Linked DNA regions of Homo sapiens. The protein of the gene in region 2 purifies or fractionates together with the protein of the main gene of each other region. This does not show direct contact. Each region holds a gene or a part of one and is shown on either strand. Other genes may lie near its edges.

The links.
Region 1: the proteins of NMUR2 (region 2) and SLC12A6 purify together in Homo sapiens (affinity purification with mass spectrometry; 2 studies listed by BioGRID and IntAct, with this or other methods). This does not show direct contact.
Region 3: the proteins of NMUR2 (region 2) and DNAJC18 purify together in Homo sapiens (affinity purification with mass spectrometry; 2 studies listed by BioGRID and IntAct, with this or other methods). This does not show direct contact.

Annotation. Positions count from the first base shown.
Region 1 is NC_000015.10:34,235,898-34,243,781, reverse strand, and holds part of SLC12A6 (solute carrier family 12 member 6), read left to right. Parts: exon of another isoform or gene 1-656; intron 657-1,560; coding exon 1,561-1,680; intron 1,681-2,444; coding exon 2,445-2,549; intron 2,550-2,952; coding exon 2,953-3,121; intron 3,122-4,621; coding exon 4,622-4,817; intron 4,818-5,380; coding exon 5,381-5,550; intron 5,551-6,231; coding exon 6,232-6,363; exon of another isoform or gene 6,364-6,392; intron 6,393-6,966; coding exon 6,967-7,074; intron 7,075-7,582; coding exon 7,583-7,767; intron 7,768-7,884.
Region 2 is NC_000005.10:152,390,283-152,396,284, reverse strand, and holds the end of NMUR2 (neuromedin-U receptor 2), read left to right. Parts: intron 1-700; coding exon 701-826; intron 827-3,783; coding exon 3,784-4,094; 3' UTR 4,095-4,739; downstream 4,740-6,002. UniProt on the Homo sapiens protein: Receptor for the neuromedin-U and neuromedin-S neuropeptides.
Region 3 is NC_000005.10:139,414,642-139,422,525, reverse strand, and holds part of DNAJC18 (dnaJ homolog subfamily C member 18), read left to right. Parts: intron 1-2,300; coding exon 2,301-2,473; intron 2,474-3,933; exon of another isoform or gene 3,934-4,524; intron 4,525-4,809; exon of another isoform or gene 4,810-4,931; intron 4,932-7,884.

The sequences.
Region 1 (7,884 bases), on a different chromosome or scaffold from region 2:
TAACACCCAATACGAATAGAGCAAAAGCACTAAATAGAGATATCCAGCCTTCTATAATTTTCAGGTTAAAACAACCTTCTCTTGCATGTTTATTTTCCTGTTTGTCTCTTAGGGTTACAGAGTCAGAGGTTCTAAATTCCAATCTCAGCTCTACTATTTCCTAGCTTTGTAACCTTCAGCAAAGCACATAACCATGTAAAATTTAATTTTATTCATTTGTAAAATGGGACTAATAAATCTAAAGTGCTTATCGTAGTGCCTGATACATAGTAAAGCTCAGCTCTCAATGAACTGTTGCTGCTGCTGCTGTTGTAGTTAAGTCTCCCCAGTCCTGAAGGGGTCATCATGAAAGATTTTTGGCTACCATCCCATCTCTTTCCTCTTATAGCTCAGAGCTCATTAATTATGTCCTGTATGTACCCGTTGCTACATTCTTCTTTGCTAACTTTCTCCTTGTTCCCTTTCTGTCTTCACTTACCAATGGTGGGCAGTGATGTAACGTTTACTGGGCAAAAATTAAAATCTTCAACTGATTTTTAATGCCTCAAATCCTCTTTCTAGCTTTAATGTTAGTTAGAAGTTCTTTATGAGGCCGGGCGTGGTGGCTCATGCCTGTAATCCCAGCACTTTGGGAGGCCAAGGCAGGCGGATCACCTAGGTCAGGAGTTTGAGACCAGCCTGACCAACATGGGGAAACCCCGTCTCTACTAAAAATACAAAAGTAGCCGGGCATGGTGGCACATGCCTGTAATCCCAGCTACTCAGGAGGCTGAGGTAGGAGAATCGCTTGAACCCGGGAGTCGGAGGTTGCAGTGAGCTGAGATCCCAGGTTCACACCATTCTCCTGCCTCAGCCTCCCGAGTAGCTGGGACTACAGGCGCCCGTCACCACACCCGGCTAATTTTTTGTATTTTTAGTAAAGACAGGGTTTCACCGTGTTAGCCAGGATGGTCTCAGTCTTCTGACCTTGTGATCCATCCGCCTCAGCCTCCCAAAGTGCTGGGATTACAGCTGTGAGCCACCGCATCCGGCCCAAAAATAATTTTTCTCAGTGAGTTCTGCAGTTATGCTAATAAGTATTTATAAAATTTTTAGAAATATTTATATGAAATTTTTTAAAAAGATCCTAGAGTTATTAACATTTCTGGCTGCGTGTCCCATCCTGGCTTTGCCAAGTAAGTATTAATTGTCCTCATAACTGCAGATGACTGATAGTGTTCCGTTATTTATATGGTTTTCCAGCAGTTGGAAACATCTTCTGTTGCAAAGGACAGTTTGGGGTTTAGTGCACATCTACCGACTGTTTCATGATAAGACAACTATAGAATTGAGAATAATCATTTAGAAACTTTTGTGGCAGTTTGACATTGCTACAGCATCCAGGCATGTGATAATTTTTCGAATAATTCATTTTTATTGCATTTTACAAAAGTTCTATTTATAATAGTTTCAAAGTTTTTAAAAAATAATACCTCACCACAGATAGTTTGAGAAGCACCTTTAACATAGGCTTCTTTTTCAGCTACTTTAAAAGATACTTTTTTGTTTTTAATTTTCTAGGGCCCTTTCTTTCATGGGAATGAGTATCTGTCTGGCTCTGATGTTCATTTCTTCCTGGTATTATGCCATTGTAGCCATGGTAATAGCTGGTATGATCTACAAGTACATTGAATACCAAGGGTGAGTGTGGATTTAATCTTGATCACTGCTAAAAGTAGCAAGACTAGCTAGTTTGGTTAGAGCCAGCTCAGTGAAAATATCTTAAGGACTCAGGTAACTTCATTTTCATAACTATATTTTGTACCCCTAATTCTTTAACCATCTTAATGATGCAAGCTTTTCATCACAAGGGAGATCCATTGAGAAAGTATGAATGGATCAATGGAAAATAACAAAGGACATTTCCAAATAATAATAATTAGTACTAAACAAAGTACAACACAAATGTAAATATTTTTGCTTATCTCTTCAGTCAAGGGGTTGTCTCTGAAATGAAAAAGAAATTAGTTCTGAACAACTTAGTAACTACTAAGACTTACAGCTTTCAAAAATGAGGACGAAATAACATTCTTATTCAGAAGATCACATTGAACTTTACTTTCTCTGCATTATTTTCAAAGTAACTTAAACTCCAGGTCTGTTATAATTTTCTAATCTAAATTGCTCTTTTACATTATTGTTTTGAACAATTACATAGAAGGACTGAATGAGTGACCCCTTCAGGCTTTATTGGGAACTGTTTGTGCAGTGCAGTCTGTTGGTGCTGTTGATCTACCTACATCAGGTTCATTATGTTAGTAAAGAACATTATGTAAATCATTAATCTGAGCTTTAATCTTCTACCTTGCACATGTGTGATTTTTAGATTCAGAAAAAAACTTTATTTTTTAAAATTATACTTACTATAGTTTAAATTTGTCTCTGCTCTTTTCTTTTTCTCACAGAGCTGAGAAAGAATGGGGTGATGGTATCCGTGGGCTGTCCCTCAGTGCAGCCCGGTTTGCTTTGCTTCGATTGGAGGAAGGACCTCCACACACTAAAAACTGGAGGTAAAGAAATCAACACTAGCAGTATTTGGCACATGGTTAACACACAAAAATATGTGTTTTGTTGATTTTAGGATAAGGAAACCATATGTGGCTCAAGGAATTGGTATAATGGACCTGTTTTGAACTATTCTAAATCCTTAATTTTTTTATTCCCTTTTCTTCATGTCGTTTATGATCAAGATTTCTACAATTTATTATTCTTCCTTGAAGACTGATCAACTTGAGATAGTACTGGGAGCATTCAAAATAATGCCCTTATCCTGTCATCTCCTGTGATCTCTTCCTTCTGTCAAATTACCTGTTTCATACAGATCTCCTGAATTAAAGGGTGGAGTCTGTCATTCTGTTCCCCAAACCCAAAATGTTTTCTCCTCCCCTCCAACCCCCACCAACCTCTTCACAGGCCTCAGTTGCTTGTATTACTGAAACTAGATGAAGACTTACATGTCAAGCATCCTCGCCTCCTCACCTTTGCCTCACAGCTCAAAGCAGGAAAAGGTCTCACTATTGTGGGCTCTGTCATCGTGGGGAACTTCCTAGAGAACTACGGTGAAGCTTTAGCTGCTGAGCAGGTAAGAGTCAGGCTTTTGAGGTATTGGAACTCAGTTTACAGCTTTGTGATGTTAAGTAGTAAGACCTCAAACTTCTACTTGAATCTTGTTCCTGAGTGATCTAGGAGGTTTCTCACTTAGTGCTGACCTTTGAAAGGACACTTTTTCCCAAATAATAAGATGAGCCAAAAATAGTTATTTATTATTTCTTCCTGTTTAAAGCATTACTAAATTATAAGATTATTAAGTCTAAACCTTATGTTCAAATATACTCCAAACATTAATCTAAGCACTGAGAAAAGTCATGTAAATAAATTGATCCCTTGAACTATGGAGAGGGTTCCTCTCAATCTTGTGACAACAAGGAGTAATGACCAAATTTTCTTCCTCTTTACTAATCTACGTGGTATCATGAGCAAGATTCCTTTGCCACTTCTGGTTAGCTGTATTGAACATTAAAGTTCTACTTTAACAAGGAAGTTGTTTTCACTCTAATACTTATTATATATGATAGAACTAATCCTATTGTTTTTGAAATGCCATTGTGTTCAATGGCATTTCAAAAGTTTTACTGTGGGGGGAGGGGGGAAGGATAGCATTAGGAGATATACCTAATGTAAATGACGAGTTAATGGGTGCAGCACACCAACATGGCACATGTATACATATGTAACAAACCTGCACGTTGTGCACATGTACCCTAAAACTTAAAGTATTTAAAAAAAAAAGTTTTACTGGATTTCATTTTGGAATCCTTTGAAATCCTAAACACTAGAAATGCTGAAGAAACATTACTCCAGAATGATGGTAAAAATTAATAAAAGGTACACAGGATTGAAAATCAGGAGAGCCTAGTTCTTAGCCGCATCACTGATTTAATCTGTGCCTTTGCAAAAATCATTCCATTTTCCATACCATTATTCCCAGGGTGGAGTAAGAGTAAATGAGATGATATCTCCAAATTGGTTTGACTAAATAAAGGAAGAGTAATGCAAATACAAGTGTCATGAATAATCACCATTAAAATGTCAAAAAGCATATGGGAATGGGAGAGGCGAAAAAGAAAACATACCTGAGAAAATTCTAAAGTGAAACTGAATCATCATACTGAGTTTCTGGTAAGATGAGTCAGGGCATGACTGGGGCTGAGGCAGGAAGGAGATCGTGTTCACAATAGTGAATCACCCTGGTCAACTGAGAAAGAATGTTGAATATTCACTTTGTAGAGATCCCTGTTCCCAGTTTTTTGGTATGGTGCAAAGGAACAAAAGCAGAACAGAGGAAAAAGCAGAGAAACTACATGTAGACAACCAGCTACAGAGGCAAAAATACGTAGTAAGCAAAAAGACAAAAGATCATGAAATTCCTTTGGGATAATTTTAACTTTTTGGACTTTTCTGTAGATGATATAGTATTATGAAGACTTTGGAAAAAGGTGGGGGATATAATATGGAGAAGGAACAATGGGTTAAAATGTCCAGAGTGAACCAGTTCAGTGTTGCGGTCCTGTGTCTCTTTCAGACCATAAAGCACCTAATGGAGGCAGAGAAGGTAAAAGGATTCTGCCAGCTGGTGGTGGCCGCCAAGCTGAGAGAGGGCATTTCCCACCTCATCCAGTCATGTGGCCTTGGGGGCATGAAGCACAACACGGTGGTGATGGGCTGGCCTAATGGCTGGCGTCAAAGCGAAGATGCCCGCGCTTGGAAGACTTTTATTGGTACTAACCATTTCTCATACAAACCTAAAGGCCCAAGTCGAGGGTATATAGTTAAATCTCTGTCACCCCCAGCCTCCTAAAGTAGAGACTATGCCATTGCTGAAGCATAGTCTTATAAGGCAACCTGAAAAACTATTGGTAGTAATACCCAGATTCTACCTACCCCCTTCAGCTTCACATTATGTTCATGAATTATTTCTGTCAAGTCTTGTGCTAGGAATTATCTCCAAAATTGCCGTGTTTTCATTTGTGATTTTCCATATTGATGTTCTCACAGGAATTGCAAGAATTGTTCTTCAGCATCATAATCTCTCAAATTCACATATCCCCCCTTAGAAATGTAGTAATGGGAATATACCTAGTAACATAAACTGTGGTTCTCAGTCTGTTAGCTATTCAGATTTTTCACAATGGTTTTTGATACGTAATGAGAAATAACCTACTAAGTAAATAGGACCCCTTGCTCAAAGAAGTGTGAAAAGAGCATTTCCTTGCTTTCCTGACATGCTAGGAAGCAAGGCAAGCCTAAGGATTCTTCTCTGCTTATTCTTTTTTCTCCCTAGGCACAGTTCGAGTGACAACTGCTGCCCATCTTGCACTGCTGGTGGCTAAAAACATCTCCTTCTTTCCCAGCAATGTGGAGCAATTTTCTGAGGGCAACATTGATGTGTGGTGGATTGTGCATGATGGGGGGATGCTTATGCTACTACCATTCCTACTGAAACAGCACAAGGTATTTTATACAACTTTTTTTTTACAAAAGTCTTTCTCCCTTCTGTCCTGGTTCACAGGACAGACAAATTCTTCCTCTGATTATAATAGTGTTGGGGTTTAGAATCAGAAGAGTTGGAAGTTATTCTAGGCTTTCCCATGATCCCACTTTCAAACAAGAGAAATCATTGTCTTTGTATTTGATACCTACTTATCTCCAAGTGAAATTCAGCCAATTAATAAAGTTCCATATGAGCCCTAGGGGAAAACAACAAGTGAACACATCTTTTTTTAAAAAATACTGAAAACTTAAGGTATATGTATATGTGTGTATTGCACGCATATATGCGCTCATTCCGTGGTAAGACTAATTAAATGAGATTTAAAATAGTAAATATATAGTCTGCATGTTGTCATTGATACACTGTCTGAATAAAGTACCCTCTTAACGTATCGTGAACCATCTTTTCTTTTGCCAGTGTTTTCTTGTTATGAAATTAAGGACTCCTTAAAACTGTATTAAATGTGGTGTTTAGTCAATCTTTTGCCCTAATACAATAACATAGCAAGTAGGAAGCTAGGAACAAATAGCCTTATACTACATATAGCAAGGTTCTTCTAGACCACAATGTCTAATGTCTTAGGAAATAACCTTTTTTGCCTCCTTGCTCTAATTTTTCACATGTGTATGTCACTCTCTCAGGTGTGGCGAAAGTGCAGCATACGGATCTTCACAGTAGCCCAATTAGAAGACAACAGTATCCAAATGAAGAAGGACCTAGCCACCTTCCTATATCACTTACGCATTGAGGCGGAGGTAGAAGTGGTGGAGATGGTGAGAAAGCTGAGTTTGAGATACAAGAGGTTCATTCCCCCATTCCTCTCCCTGTCTTCCTTGAATCTTTTCTGGTTTGGGAAATTTTTCAGATCTAAATGTGGATTAATCCCCTAGTGCCAAAAAAAAAACAAAAAAAAACCCTAATTTGTTGCCCTAAGTAGAATGTATATGTGATGCATGTTTGATGTTATTTTTTGGTTTTGCTTTCTTGTTTATTACACAGCCCTTATATTTCTGCCAGATTCTCATCTGCTTAATATAGTTTTATGAAATTTTTATTCATATATTCAGCTTAAAATCACACATGGCTTTTAAAAAAAACCTAACAGTATAAAAAAGAGAGACTGGAGTTTGTATTTTGTGTTTCAAGGCAACACATGTCTTGGTTAGATTATGGAAAAGACTCTCAGGGCCTCTGAATTTTATCTACAGTCACAAAAACATTTATGTAGCTCAATGACTAAACAAAGTAAGGGTGAAGCTTAGGTTAATATAGTGATGCTGTCCCTGGTTTAATTTAGTGACTGGAAATAAAAATGTATGGTTCATCCTTCTTTCTCCTTTGTGCTTTTTGCCCCTTTTATGTGATGTCTATGGCAGCATGACAGTGATATATCAGCATATACTTACGAGCGCACTTTGATGATGGAACAAAGGTCCCAGATGCTCCGGCACATGCGGCTATCCAAAACAGAGCGAGACAGAGAGGTGAGACATTACTGCATCAATCCAATCCGTGCTCTCTAAAGTCTGTCACTGAAAGGGATGATACTGGGCTGGGCATGGTGGCTCACGCCTGTAATCCCAGCACTTTTGGAGGCCGAGGCGGGTGGATCAAGAGGTCAGGAGTTCAAGACCAGCCTGGCCAAGATGGTGAAACCCCATCTGTACTAAAGTACGAAAATTAGCCGGGCATGGTGGCACATGCCTGTAATCCCAGCTACTCAGGAGGCTGAGGCAGAGAAGTGCTTAAACCCAGGAGGCGGAGGTTGCAGTGAGCCAAGATCACGCCACTGCACTCCAGCCTGCGTGACAGAGGAAGACTCTGTCTCAAACCAAAAAAAAAAGGGATGATACTATATTGTTTTCAAGGATGACAAATTCCTTCTCACTCTGTCAGTTATTCCACTATAACCCATTACTGCTTCAAAATAACCAAAGATGAAGCATAAGAGAAAATTTGGTAGAATAACTTGTGTTGGACCTTCTTCCTCAGGCACAATTGGTGAAAGACCGAAACTCAATGCTACGATTGACCAGCATTGGCTCTGATGAGGACGAAGAGACAGAAACCTATCAGGAGAAGGTGCACATGACTTGGACAAAAGACAAGTACATGGCATCCCGGGGACAAAAAGCGAAGTCAATGGAAGGATTCCAGGACCTGCTTAACATGCGTCCGTAAGTTTTCCCACTCCCAAGTTTATCATAAAATTACCTAATCAGTGGCACAAATGTGACTTTGCCTGGACACACAGGATGGAGTCTGTTCATTTCACCCTGAATCTAGCCACCTCA
Region 2 (6,002 bases):
CCCAAGAGTCATGTCATAGCAAAGTAAAGTATTTACAACTTCAAAAGGAAAAAAAAAAAGTGTGTGTGTGTGTGTGTGTGTGTGTGTTTAATTTGTGGAGCTTAAATGCCCCAAAGAAAAACTACAGAAATACCAGTCTCTGTTTTGGGAGGTGAAAATAAGAGATGGGAAGGAATTCTGTGCTGTAGCAATTTATAATATGACAGACACACCCCTTCCAATCAAAAGATTCTTGTAAAGTACTATTAGGCTTGTGGTTGTTTGATCTCTTCTTTCTCCTTGCCTACCCATTGCAGAATTTTAAATTATTGAATTCAGAGAAACTTCTAATTATTCCTATAACAACAAGATGAATTTATATACACATTTAACAGTTTATTATTTATCTTTCACAATAAGATGTTTTCAGGACTTTGAAATAAATTAAATACTATTTTAAATGTTCTAAAAAGTTTTACATTATATAAGAAATCTTGTATAATCTTATGGAAAACTGATCCTAGATCTTATACAATTCATTCTTGTGTTTTAAGTGTTTTGTACTGAGACTCTTTGGGATCTAGTTTGCCTCTATAACTGTTATAGCTTAACAAAGTTGAAGGGAAAAACTGCCAGAAGAAATGATTGACTCAGAGTGAGCATTGTATACCTATCCTTGCACAGACTGTCTTCTGGTCTCCCATTTATCATCCATTTTCAGTTGTCTTGGTCTTAGTGTTTGCTATCTGTTGGGCCCCGTTCCACATTGACCGACTCTTCTTCAGCTTTGTGGAGGAGTGGAGTGAATCCCTGGCTGCTGTGTTCAACCTCGTCCATGTGGTGTCAGGTAAAACCTTAGCTGGATTTGGTGCATGACTAGTATTCAGGTAACAGCACCTTCTTCTTCATCTTGCTTAGATGCCTAAGTACTCCAATTTATCACGGGGATCTGCCATGCTATAATGAAGACATTTGATTTTTCTTTTATTCAGAGATTGATTATGTTTGATACTGTTCCAAATACATATATACCAGATCACTATTTTCAAGGCTACTTTATGGAAAACCTCAAGTCTAACTGTGATGATTACAGAAGGAAAATGGTCAAGGAGTGATTCCTTTGGTTATCCTCCAAATGGCCATGCAATTAAATTGGTTCTTATTTAGTAAACACCCATGTCCCTGAAATCTCATATTGCCTTTGGGAAGTATTATATCCTCATGAAGGAAAACTAAATGGTATTCATAGGTAATCAAGTTCTCCTTTTAGGCTACTGTAACTCTGCTTGTTGAGGATACCATAGTATATTGTGGAAACCATGGTGGAAAGGTCAGTAAGTCAGATGACCTGGATTTGCAACCCAATTTCACCATTGCTATTCTGAGTGATCTGGAGAACGTGGCTGCCTTCACACCAAAGTTTCCTCAACTGTAAAATGGCAAAAAAAAAAAAAAAAAAAAGCCTCCTGTACACAAACCATGGACTGATGGTAAGGAGCAAATGCAATAATAGACATTAAAGAGCTCTTTAAGCTGTAATTGCTGTATATCTTTCTATAATCATCACAAGGTCATTAGGTGGATATTATGATTAACATTGTATAGTCAAAAATAAAACCCTTCCACAAGAAGAAATGATTTGCCCTAAGGCACTTAGCTAACAAATAACCCACCCAAGTCATCTAACTTCAAGTTCAGTGTTCTTTCTACTAAAATGAAGCAAAGAATGACCACCTAGTTTCTTCTTTCTCAGTCAGTGACAGCTAACTCAGTGTTAGCCTTAGGCTCAGACCTCTTCTGTCCCCCCACCTCTCCTGGTCACCGGCTGATTCTATGGGCTCATTAGATTATAGAAGACATCACCGGAAAGGAAAGATAAGATCACCTTTTACAAGTTAAGCTCCAGATGTGTACAAAGCAGAAACAATGACATCTATACTGAATATTGTGTATACTATGTATTTTCTGTCACCCTCTTTTTTGTACTCAGCAGGCCTAATGTATAGCTTATTCCTGGACATTAGCACTTTCCTGTTCAACCATTTGCAACCAAAGCTCAAAAATATGTATACCTCTTAGTTTATCCTTTTGGTTAATCTGCGGAAAACAGAAATGTTTAAATAAATGAGAAAGCACTACAAGGTCAAATGAGACTTGACTAATTGACTACAATTCTCTGGATGCGTCAAGGCAATTATCTTAAGATTTTCAAGTTATAGCCTCAATAATGACATGATCCTGTTCAGATACCATCTCCCCCCTTTTATATTAGCCACTAGATTAAATCTAAATCTCTTAAACCCTACAGAAAATACCCCCAACTTGCCTTTTAATCCTCCAACTTTTATTATTTTTATTCATAGACCATATACTTATCAAATTGGTAATTAGAGAGTTCTGCACATTATTCCTGCACAATATGGCCATTCCTGCCCCTGAATACTTATGCGTGCTATATACCCTGTACCTGCAACACCCTCTCCTGTCTTCCTCAACTATCTCTTACCCATTTTGAGGCCTGGCTAGAGTTCAATCACCCCCCACTAAATCTTTTATGATTATCACAGTCCTTGTGTTTCTGTTATTATGTGAATTGCTATAGCATGATTTGTTATCTCATATTTGTTCTTAACAGATACTGCTTGGTATTGTTGTATTGTTAATTATTTAACTTAGCCATAAATCTTGTCTCTGCAGTACCATTCCAAGATCTTGGAGAACAAAGTCTAATTCACTACCTCCCAATGTGCTTTGAAGTTCATGGCACATAATAAGAGTTAAATCAATATTTATTTTTTGAATGAACTAATAGTATTAATGCATAGAAATATTCTCCTTTAACATTCTTCCATGTTTATTCTGTAAACAAGGCATATAGCATTCTGAATGTTCTGAACCACATAAATAAGGACAACAAGGAACCTTTTGGCAATATTACCCATCACTTGTTTTACATTCTTAGCCATTCTCAACCTCTCTGTGGATGGTATCTTAACTTTACCCTCACAATAATCCAGGGAGGTGGGTTAGGCTGGAAATCACATTCCCATTTTACAGAGAAAGAAACTGAAGTGCCAGGGTTTGTCTAAGGCCACAGGATATTAGAGGGCCAAGATCAGAAACTAGGTCCTCTGATTCCCAAACTTGGGCTGATTTTGGGCTTTAGAGAAATAAAATTTAAAAAGGCAATAAAGGAAGAGTGTATTCCAAACAGGAAAATGACAATGTGAAGGTTAATTGGTAGAGGAAATAAATGGTAAAATACAATTCTTCAAAAGGTGGAGGAACCATCAAGGGAAAAGGGTAGGTAGGAACAGCACGCTAGGGAATATTTCTTTGAAGCCGTATCTTAGCATTATAAGGAGTCTCAGCAGGAACTAAGCCTTGGCTGATTTACCTTCTTCCACTACTTGCAATCCCAAATTATAGATTTAAGTAAAATTCCAATGAGATAGAAACGTTTCTCTTCCCTCTGATATTTAAGCATCTTTCAGTCATGTTATAGAAACATGTTCTTTAATTAAACAAGTAGTGATCAAAGAAAGTTGCTGAACATCTCAGAGAGATCCCATGTCAGCCTAACTTACTCCAAGACTCTTTAATCTTTGTGTTTGATGGCTAAGTGCACAGGTGGAAGATCTATTCAGAGCATTTTGTATTCTCAATTAGATGCTTGTATGTATTATCACTTATAAAAGAGGCAATCACAGGGATTCTAGGCCTTTGTAAATATTTATGCTTCTTCCTTCATGCCGGTCACTTAAGTTCTTCTCAGCACATCTTTTTAAATCCCCTGCATTCCAGGTGTCTTCTTCTACCTGAGCTCAGCTGTCAACCCCATTATCTATAACCTACTGTCTCGCCGCTTCCAGGCAGCATTCCAGAATGTGATCTCTTCTTTCCACAAACAGTGGCACTCCCAGCATGACCCACAGTTGCCACCTGCCCAGCGGAACATCTTCCTGACAGAATGCCACTTTGTGGAGCTGACCGAAGATATAGGTCCCCAATTCCCATGTCAGTCATCCATGCACAACTCTCACCTCCCAGCAGCCCTCTCTAGTGAACAGATGTCAAGAACAAACTATCAAAGCTTCCACTTTAACAAAACCTGAATTCTTTCAGAGCTGACTCTCCTCTATGCCTCAAAACTTCAGAGAGGAACATCCCATAATGTATGCCTTCTCATATGATATTAGAGAGGTAGAATGGCTCTTACAACTCATGTACCCATTGCTAGTTTTTTTTTTTTTAATAAACGTGAAAACTGAGAGTTAGATCTGGTTTCAAAACCCAAGACTGCCTGATTTTTAGTTATCTTTCCACTATCCTAACTGCCTCATGCCCCTTCACTAGTTCATGCCAAGAACGTGACTGGAAAGGCATGGCACCTATACCTTGATTAATTTCCATTAATGGAAATGGTTCGTCCTGAGTCATCTACGTTCCGAGTCAGGCTGTCACTCCTACTACCAATGGCCACTGTGAGCCACAGAAGGAAGACATGTACGTGCTGTTCTACTTTATATGATGTGAGAAGCCAACATCAGTGTCCCTTGGCAGCAGTCTACAGGCATAACTTGTTTTATTGTGCTGAATTTTATTGTGCTTCTCAAATATTGCACTTTTAAAAAAATTGAAAGTTTGTGGCAATGCTGTTGAGCAAATCTGCTGGCATCTTTCTTCCCAAAGGCATGTGCTCACTTCATGTCTCTGTATCAATTGTCATAATTTTCGCAATAAACTTGATTATTATTATATGTGCTTATGGTGATCTGTGGTCAGTGATCTTTGATATTACTATTGTAATTATTTTGGGAAACCTATGAACTGCTTCCATAGAAGATGGAGAGCTTAATAAATATTGTGTTGTTCTGACTGTTCCACCCACCAGCCATTCCCCATCTTGGTCCCTCTCCATGGGCCTACCTATTCCCTGAGACAAAACAATATTAAAATTAGGCCAATTAAGAACCCTGCAATGGCCTCTAAGTGTAAGTGAAAGGAAGAGCGGCAAGTCTCTCACTTTAAATCAAAAGCTAGAAAGGATTAAGCTTAGTGAGGATGTAAAAAAACTGAGATAGGCTTAGAGCTATCTATGCCTCTTGTAGCTTTTAGCCAAGTTTGGAATACAAAAGAAAAGCTCTTAAAGAAAGTTAAAAATGCTACTCTAGTGAACACATAAATTATTGTAAGAAAACAAAACACCCTCATTGCTGATACAAAGAAAGTTTGAGTGGTCTGGATAGAAGATCAAACCAGCCACAACATTCCCTTAAGCCAAAGCCTAATTCAGAGAAAGGCCCTAACTCTCTTCAATTCTATGGAGACAGAGAGAGCTGAGAAAGATGCAGAAGAAAAGTTGGAAGCTAGCAGAGGTTGGTTCATGAGGTTTAAAGAAAAAAGCCATTCTCTATAATATAAAAGTGCAAACTGAAACATTAAGTGCTGATGTAGAAGCTGCAGCAAGTTATCCAGAAGTTACAGCTAAGATAATTGATGAAGTTGGCTACAGAAAAACAAAAAAGATTTTTAATGCAGATGAAACAGTTTTATCTTGGAAGAAGATGCCATCTAACTAAGGCTTTTATACCTAAAGAAGAGAAGTCAATGTCTGACTTCAAAGCTTCAAAGAACAGGCTGACTCTCTTGTTTGGGGATAATGCAGCTGGTGACCTGAAGTTGAAGCCAATGCTCATTCACCATTCTGAAAATCCTAGGGCCCTTAAGAATTATGCTAAATCTACTCTGTGCTTTATAAATGGGGAAACAAAACCTGGGTAACAGCACATCTGTTTACAGCATGGTTTACTGAATATTTTAAGCCCACTGTTGAGACCTACTGCTCAACAAAAAGATTCCTTTCTAAATATTACTGCTTATGAATAATGCACCTATTCACCCAAGAGCTGTGATAGAATTGTACAAGGATATTAATGTTTTCATGCCTGTGAACACAACAGTCATTCTGAAGCCCATAGATCAAGGAATAATTTCAACTCTGAGAAATACATTTCCATGAG
Region 3 (7,884 bases), about 13 Mb from region 2:
TGTGCCTCGGGAAATAGATTGTCTTGTTCTATAGTGACATCATCTGGTCAGCTGCAGAACAGCAGTAACTGGTTTTTGAAGGATCAGTAGAATTTAAGGTTTAGATGAACTCATTATCACACCATGGTAGAGTTAGAAAGACTCTGTTAAGCTGTTGATAGGATTGCTGGACCCTGTGGGTCTCGGAGCATAGTATTAATAATGGGGATCAAGTGATTATTTTCAATTTTTTTGTTTTTGTTGAAAATAGAGAAATTCCTTGTAATGCTTTTTGCGTATAGATTATAAACTCTGATAGGATTTTTAAAAATTTCTTCAATTAATTCTTTCAGTTGATTCAGTTCCCAAAGTTTGGTCCCCAGACCAGCCATCGTCAGCATCAACAGGCAACATGTTAGAAAGGCAGATTCTAGGGCCCCTCCATATCCATTGAATTAGAGGCTCTGGGGGTAGGACCAGAAGTCTGAGTTTTAAAAAACCCTCTAGATTATTCTGGTCCACACTGAAGTTTGAGAATCACTAGATTATCTTTTTTGTTAATAATGAATAATAAATTATTATTCATTATTATAATTTAGTGGGAAAAAAACCTTTTAAAAGTAGAATTTATTAGACAATATATAACAGGAAGAGTCTTTGTCAGTGATCACTGTAGACAAGACCATCATTCCAGGTCAATCCAGGTCAGTATTTCCTTTTTTGTTTGTTTTTGTTTTTTGAGACAGAGTCTCACTCTGTCGCCTGGGCTGGAGTGCAGTGGTGCAATCTGGGCTCACTTCAACCTCCACATCCCTGGTTCAAGGAATTCATGTGCCTCAGCCTCCTGAGTAGCTGGAATTACAGGCGGCACGCACCACCACACCCGGATAATTTTTATATTTTAGTAGAGACAGGGTTTCACTATGTTGGCCAGGCTGGTCTCAAACTCCTAACCTCAGGTGATCTGCCCACCTTGGCCTCCCAAAGTGCTGGGATTACAGGCATGAGCCATCGCGCCCGGCTAGTATTTTCCTTTTACAGAGAGCGAAGCTGAGGCTGAAAGAGAGGTTTCTTTTTATTGTTTTTGTTTTCGAAGCAGTCTTGCTCTGTCACCCAGGCTCCCAGGCTGAAGTGCAGTGGTGCAATCTTGGCTCACTGTAATCCCCTTCTCCCAGGTTCAAGCGATTCTCATGCCTCAGCCTCCTGAGTAGCTGGGATTATAAGCATGTGCCACCACACCTGGCTAATTTTTGTATTTTTTAGTAGAGACTGGGTTTCACCATGTTGGCTGGGCTGGTCTCGAACGCCTGACCTCCACCTTTCTTGGCCTCCCAAAGTGCTGGGATTACCGTCATGAGCCACTGCACCTAGCCTTCATAGAGAGGTTTTTGCCATCAGGCCACACTGGCCTGATTCCCTCTGTTTCCCAGCTTCTCATGTTTTTCCATATGGCACTTTAGCTTTCTTTCTTGTGAGGCCAGCGGGGTAAGCACGGACCTGCTCTGTAAGCTCCCCCAAAACCTTAGAGTGAGGGGAGAGCAGTCATGGCTTCAGCTCTTACTCTAATTAGAGAGGATCAAAGGAGAGGGCCGGAAAAAGGCCAAATAAAATATAGCCCCTTTAATGTAGAATTTGTCCAGTTTGAAGAAAACCATTTCTGTCACATTGTTTTAACTTGAGTTTGAGGTCCCTTCTATGTTTCCTTATGGTTAGAATTAGTCAGCTCAGTACTCTTATTAATGTTGCTAAGCACCAGATACCTTTGGATGTCTTGGACCCACAGAGAGTTAGCTCTAAAGCATCATTGAAATCTTTTGTCTGAGTTTCTTGCAGTTCTCAGTTAGCAGCTATGTGCGAAGTACTTTTTATCATGTCCAAAATATTGCTTCTAGGTTGGTGTGAGCTATCTGTTTTTTTTGTAAATAATTTGCTATATAACATAATCAGTTCATTCAACCAGCATTTATAATAGCCTACTCTGTCAGGTACCATACTAGATCCTACACAACGTAAAAATTGTTTGTTTTAAGCATTCAGCATTCTACTTTTAGCACAGAGAGCAGTATAAGAGAGGTGAGTCCTTTAAGAGAATAAACTATGCTGAAGCTGAATTCATAGTATGAACTTGCTTACATAATACAATTATGATGATGTTATACTTACAACTTTGCTAGGGAAATAAGAAGTGTTGGGTATATTAGAAAATGATATCTGCCTCTGCTCTATGAGCAGATGATGATGATGATATCTGTGAGGGCAGTGCTAAGAGTAATATTGCCAAATATTATGAGCTCACATGAGCCTCTCTCTCCTTGTTTCAGGACCTTGGGCTACACCATTTCTAGAGAAACTCAGAACCTGCAGGTGCCTTACTTTGTGGATAAAAACTTTGACAAGGCCTACAGAGGAGCTTCTCTGCATGACTTGGAGAAAACAATAGAGAAGGATTACATTGATTATATCCAGACTAGTTGTTGGAAGGAGAAACAACAAAGTAAGATACTGTAAAAGGGGCATTAGCTGGTGGCTGTGGTTCCCAGCAGGAGGCACCCCCAGCCTCCTGATCCCTCCTCTCTTCTTGTTTGAGGCTACGCATGTTTATGTGAACAGAGTCAGAGGACAAAGGCCATTCAGGATACTATAAAAAAGTAGGGGAAATTTATTGACAGGATACATGTGGCCAGGACTTGGAAATCTTAGGAATTTAGGCGGCACTAGTCACCTGTCTGTATGTCTGTCTCTCTTTGAGTCTCTACCTCTCTCTGCCAATCTGCCCCCTCTCCTCTCCCCACCAGCTGCCTTCCTTTCTTTCTTCCAGCTTCCCTTTTGCATAACCTTGTTTGCCATGGTTTACAGTGGTTGCCACCCTGCTTATCACTCTCTCAAATTCCCCAGTCTCACCAGTCAGTGCCCCTTTCTGCAGCACACACGTCTGTAAGTTCTTGGTGCTCGCTGATTTGGTCCACAGTTTCCCAATTCCACACTCCCTAGAGGGAAATCTGATCGAGCCAGCCTAACTTTTTGAAACAGAACAAAGGTTTAGAGGTTTCTGGTATGGAATGAGGTGTCCCCTACCCTCACCTCCAGCTGGTTGTGGCCACACAGAACAAAAGCGACCCCTTGGGTCTGCCCCTTTGGGTGTGGCAGGCCTTCCCCCCTATTTCCCTCTCTGGAGACAGTGGGGATGATAGCATCTGCCACTGGCTTACAGCTCCAGCAAGTGTTACTAGGAGTGTCTGCAGCAGGGGTAGCCCCGTCTCAGCCAACAGCTTCACCTTTGGTCCCACTTGAATTCTACACACACATACCGCGTTAGTGACTGTGTCTTCTAAAACTTGGTTTTGATTATTTTTATTTTCTTTTTTATTTTTCAGGAGGTACCCTTTTAACTGAAGTTTTGGCTCATGTTTAAAAAGCAAATTCTGACTCATTTCTAAAGCCTTATTACTGAGTATCATTAAATACCTAATGGAGTCTGATAAAATTAGCTCTTCAGTCACAGTGCTGCTAAGCCCTCATTGACCATCACACACTCCCAACCCCGCCCTCAAGTTAAGCTCTCCTTCCTCTGTGTTCTTAAAGCACTTTGTTCAGCCTGCTAACATAGTACCAATCACACAGTGTTAGAGTTCCAGGGATATATGTCAGTCTCCCCTGCAAGACTATGGACTGTCTGGGAATAAGAACTTGGTCTTACTAATTTTGTGTCCCAGGGTTCTGGCACAGTCCTTGCTTCAGAACAAGTGCTCAACAAATGTCTTTTGAAGAGAGGATTCTCAGGAGTAGAAAACAATGAAAATGCTGAGGATTGTGAATAACAACAGCAGGGTTAGTGTCCTAGCTCACCCTTAGGGACCTGGTCTCTGCCCCCTATTTCTGTACGGCAAAGTCCTAATGTTCTCTCAAGGTGCATTAGGAAGTTGGTGAGCAATGACTCTGGGATATAAGAGGAAATTAAACAGGAAGAGGAAATTCCAATTTATTGAAAAACACTGAGGATTCAGGAAATACTCTACCCCATTGCTAAACTAGATTTTACAAGAATCAAAAATCAGGAAAGAATTTTAGAGCAGGATAAAGGCCTCATATTAAAAGGCAGTATATAGGCCAGGCATGGTAGCTCATGCCTATAGTCCTAGCACTTTGGGAGGCCGAGGCAGGAGGATCACTTGAGTCCAGGAGTTTGAGACCAGCCTGGGAACCCCATCTCTAGAAAAAGTATAAAAATAAGCCAGGTGTGGCAGCACATGCCTGTGGTTTCAGCTACTCAGGAGGTCGAGCCTGGGAGATCAAGGCTGCAGTGAGCTGTGATCACTCCACTGCACTCCAGCCTGGGCCACAGAGCGAGATCCTGTCTCAATAAAAAGGCAGTATATACATGGATCCAAATCAGGTGAAAGCCAGTGTATGTCCTGAAAATCCCCATTGTCTGGGTCCTGGGAGGGCTTTGACTTTGTTGCTTTCTGCAAGAACTGGATGAAAATCTGCATTTCACATTCTTCAAACACCCGCCTGCCCCACATCTTCCTCTGTGGCAGTAAGATGCTGGAATTATACAAAGAGCTCATGGTAAGGATTGCACCAGAGGTAGTTTCTCAGCTTTTGTCCCCATCCCCATGAGGCCTAGTTCAGAGCTTCGGCACTCTCCAGGTATAAATAAAAATCCAGTGAGTGGCCAGGTGTGGTGGCTCATGCCTGTAATCCCAGCACTTTGGGAGGCCAAGGAGGATGGATCACCTGAGGTCCGGAGTTCGAGACCAACCTGGCCAACATGGCGAAACCCCTTCTCTACTAAAAATACAAAAATTAGCTGGGTGTGGTGGTGCGCACCTGTAATTCCAGCTACTTGGGAGGCTGAGGCAGGAGAATCTCTTGAACCCGGGAGGCGGAGGTTGCAGTCTGCTGAGATCGTGCCACTGCACTTCAGCCTGGGTGACAGAGCGAGACTCCATCTAAAAAAAAAAAAAAAAAAAAAAAATCCAGTGAGTAAGCATGATGCGTGTACCCACAAGTTCCAAATGGCAGTTATCAGCACAAACCCCTTAAAAATCTATTTCTGGCATTTAAGTACAGCGGCTATGCAGAGCCTCCACACAACCCAAGTGCCATTTGAGAACAAGCAGCATCTGCCCTCCGAATCCAGCAGCAAGTGCAGCCAACAAGGTTAAATTTAGCACTTGGAGGTTGTAAAAATAAACCCACTTGAGAACAAAGTTCACTCTTGGCAAAATACCAAATGCAAACTGTTTTTAGCAAGGTTAGCCATTGACTTTTTAAATCTTTGTTTGGTTCATTTATTTTTCTCTGCTCTTCCTTAGAATGTTTAATCTGGGTGAAAATTTTTTTTTTTTTTTTTTTTGACAGAGTCTCGCTCTCTCGCTCAGGCTGGAGTGCAGTCATGCAATCTCGGCGCACTGCAACCTCCACCTCCCAGGTTCAAGCGATTCTCCTGCCTCAGCCTCCTGAGTAGTTGGGACTATAGGTGCATGCCACCGTGCCTGGCTAATTTTTGTAGTTTTTAGTAGAGACGGGGTTTCAAGGATGTTGGTCAGGCTGGTCTCGAACTCCTGACCTCAGGTAATCCGCCCACCTCGGCCTCCGAAGTGCTGGGATTACAGGCGTGAGCCACCACACCCGGCCAATCTGGGCAAACCTTTATGAGTAATCCCTTACTATAAACACTAATTGTCCTGTTTACTTCTTCGCAGCTGCATCTAGATAGTAAGCCTGATGCCAGGGCAAGTGGCCACACCACTAGGCTGGGCTGGACGAAGGTAGCAGGCAGGAACTGCCTCTTGGCCTAGCTGAGCTGAGCTGAGCTCCTGGCCCAGACTGGTAGAGGAGCACTTCTTTCCACACCCTTGAGCAGGATAACCTAGTGGGTAGAAGCTTAGGCTTTGAAATGGGGATAGAATCCACTTCCTCCTAGAGAGGTTGTGTGGGTTATGGAAGATGGTATGGGTGTAACTCTTAGCACAGTGTCTGGCACATAGAAAGTGCCTAATTTCTGGTGGAGTCCTGGCTTTACCTGGCTTTGCACTGTAGACTGGATGTAGCACCATCTCATGGGGCTGGATCATGAGGGCAGTTGGGATCTGTTGCGGTCTTTCAGCTGTTGAGACCAATCTGGGCTCTTTTGCAGAGAACCTTAGGAGAGGTTCTGGGTCTTGCTTCTCTTGGCAATTTGCCTGAGTCAGTTTATCTTTAAGGCTCAATGCTCTGTCCATCTGTTACAGTGGCATTCAGAGGAAGGGGAACTTTCTGCTAAGAAGAAAAGGTATTCTCTGGAACCTGCCACTCCCCAAAATTTTTTTTAATTACTTAGAATTTATTGAATATTAACAGAATTTGTCAAAAGTAGCATATTCTTCAAGTTGACCCTTTGTTCATTGAAGGATGAAAGGATTCACTGGCAGTTTGGAGAGAAGTTGCTTTAAGCTTGGTAGTGGGGATGTGGGACATGATTCCTTGAAACACTGACCTTGTACAAGGTCATTGCTCTGGAGCAGGGGTCTCTGAGCTGGTTTCAGTGAACTTTATGAAAAGCAATGTGATATTTTGAGAAAAGCAGTTATCTTTCATCAGCTTGTTGAAGTGGCCTTCAATGTAGAAAATATAAAGAGTCACTAGCCCTTAATGTTTCCTGGAACAAGATTTCAGGGAATGAAGCATTTAGAAAAGCTGAGCAAATGGAAAACCTGAGGAAATCATTTCAAAGAAAAGCAAAACCACAGAATCTGTTTCAATACTGGTGTAACTGTGACTCCAGAGGACTAAAGGCATAGACTGACTTCACAGAGGCCTCCTGGGCAAGGTTACCCACATGCCAAAGTAGCCTGAGATTGGAGTTAGTGCCGAGCCCTGGGCAGGATGCAGGAGCAGAGAGCTTTCATTTGGATATGGCCCATGATCCTCCATGACGCCCCATCACCTGCAAGGGTGACTGTGCCAAGGCAAGCCCTGGCTAGCAGGCGCTGCAGGCACCCTCACCAAGCAGGGAGAGCGCATTGTTCTGGAGCCTGGGAGACCCACTGCTTGCCAAGCAACTGCTGGGCTAGAGCCCAGGCTGTGCGGCCTCCATTGTAGAGGGAGGGTTTTTATGCATATCCATCCCTCACTCTGGAGTCCTGCACTTAATCTGCACTTTGGGCCTTACTTGGGGGTAAATAGCATCATTGTGCACAGAAATGCCAGACAGTGTTTTGTGTTGATAGAAACGTATTCAGAAAGCAATGCCCATTGTTCCCCCTGGCTAAATAATAATTCCGTTTCCAGGCAGTTTGCTGATTAATCAGACAGGTGTCTTTCGTTCCACCAAGAAAAACAAAATCTGTCAGCAAGATGATTAAGAATAGATAGGCATATTTCAAAACAATTAAAATAGCATTTTTACAAGTCTGGTCCTTTAAACATTGAGTAGCTGCCTGCTGTTGGAGGCTTTCAGGAAACACACACCACATCCAAGCATGCCATCCTGTTAATACGCAATACGTCTCTAAAGGTGCTCTTCAGGCATTCCTCCCTGAATATGTCTGAAACCTCACAAAAGAATAAAAAATAGAGGCAACCAAACCACTGTTGAGTCAGGAAACACAGCAGAGATTATATTCTGGTTAAAAATAGAATGACCTTCTCCACCATAAAGAGAAAATGAAATTAATTTAGTCAAGGAGACAAAGGTCACCGGATCCAGATGATTCAACTTTTAGAAAGGCCCAGCTGCCTTTGGCCTTTGAGTTGGGGACCCTACGTGTGGTGAGGGAATGAACAGCGCCAGTAGTGCCCTGGCCTTCTGTGGACGCACACCCGGCAGCAGTAGGCTCTGTGTGCCTTCGCACATGTGAGTTATGATGCAGCAATGCAGGAGAAGAATAAAGCAGCTGTCTGTTTCAGATGACAGGAATA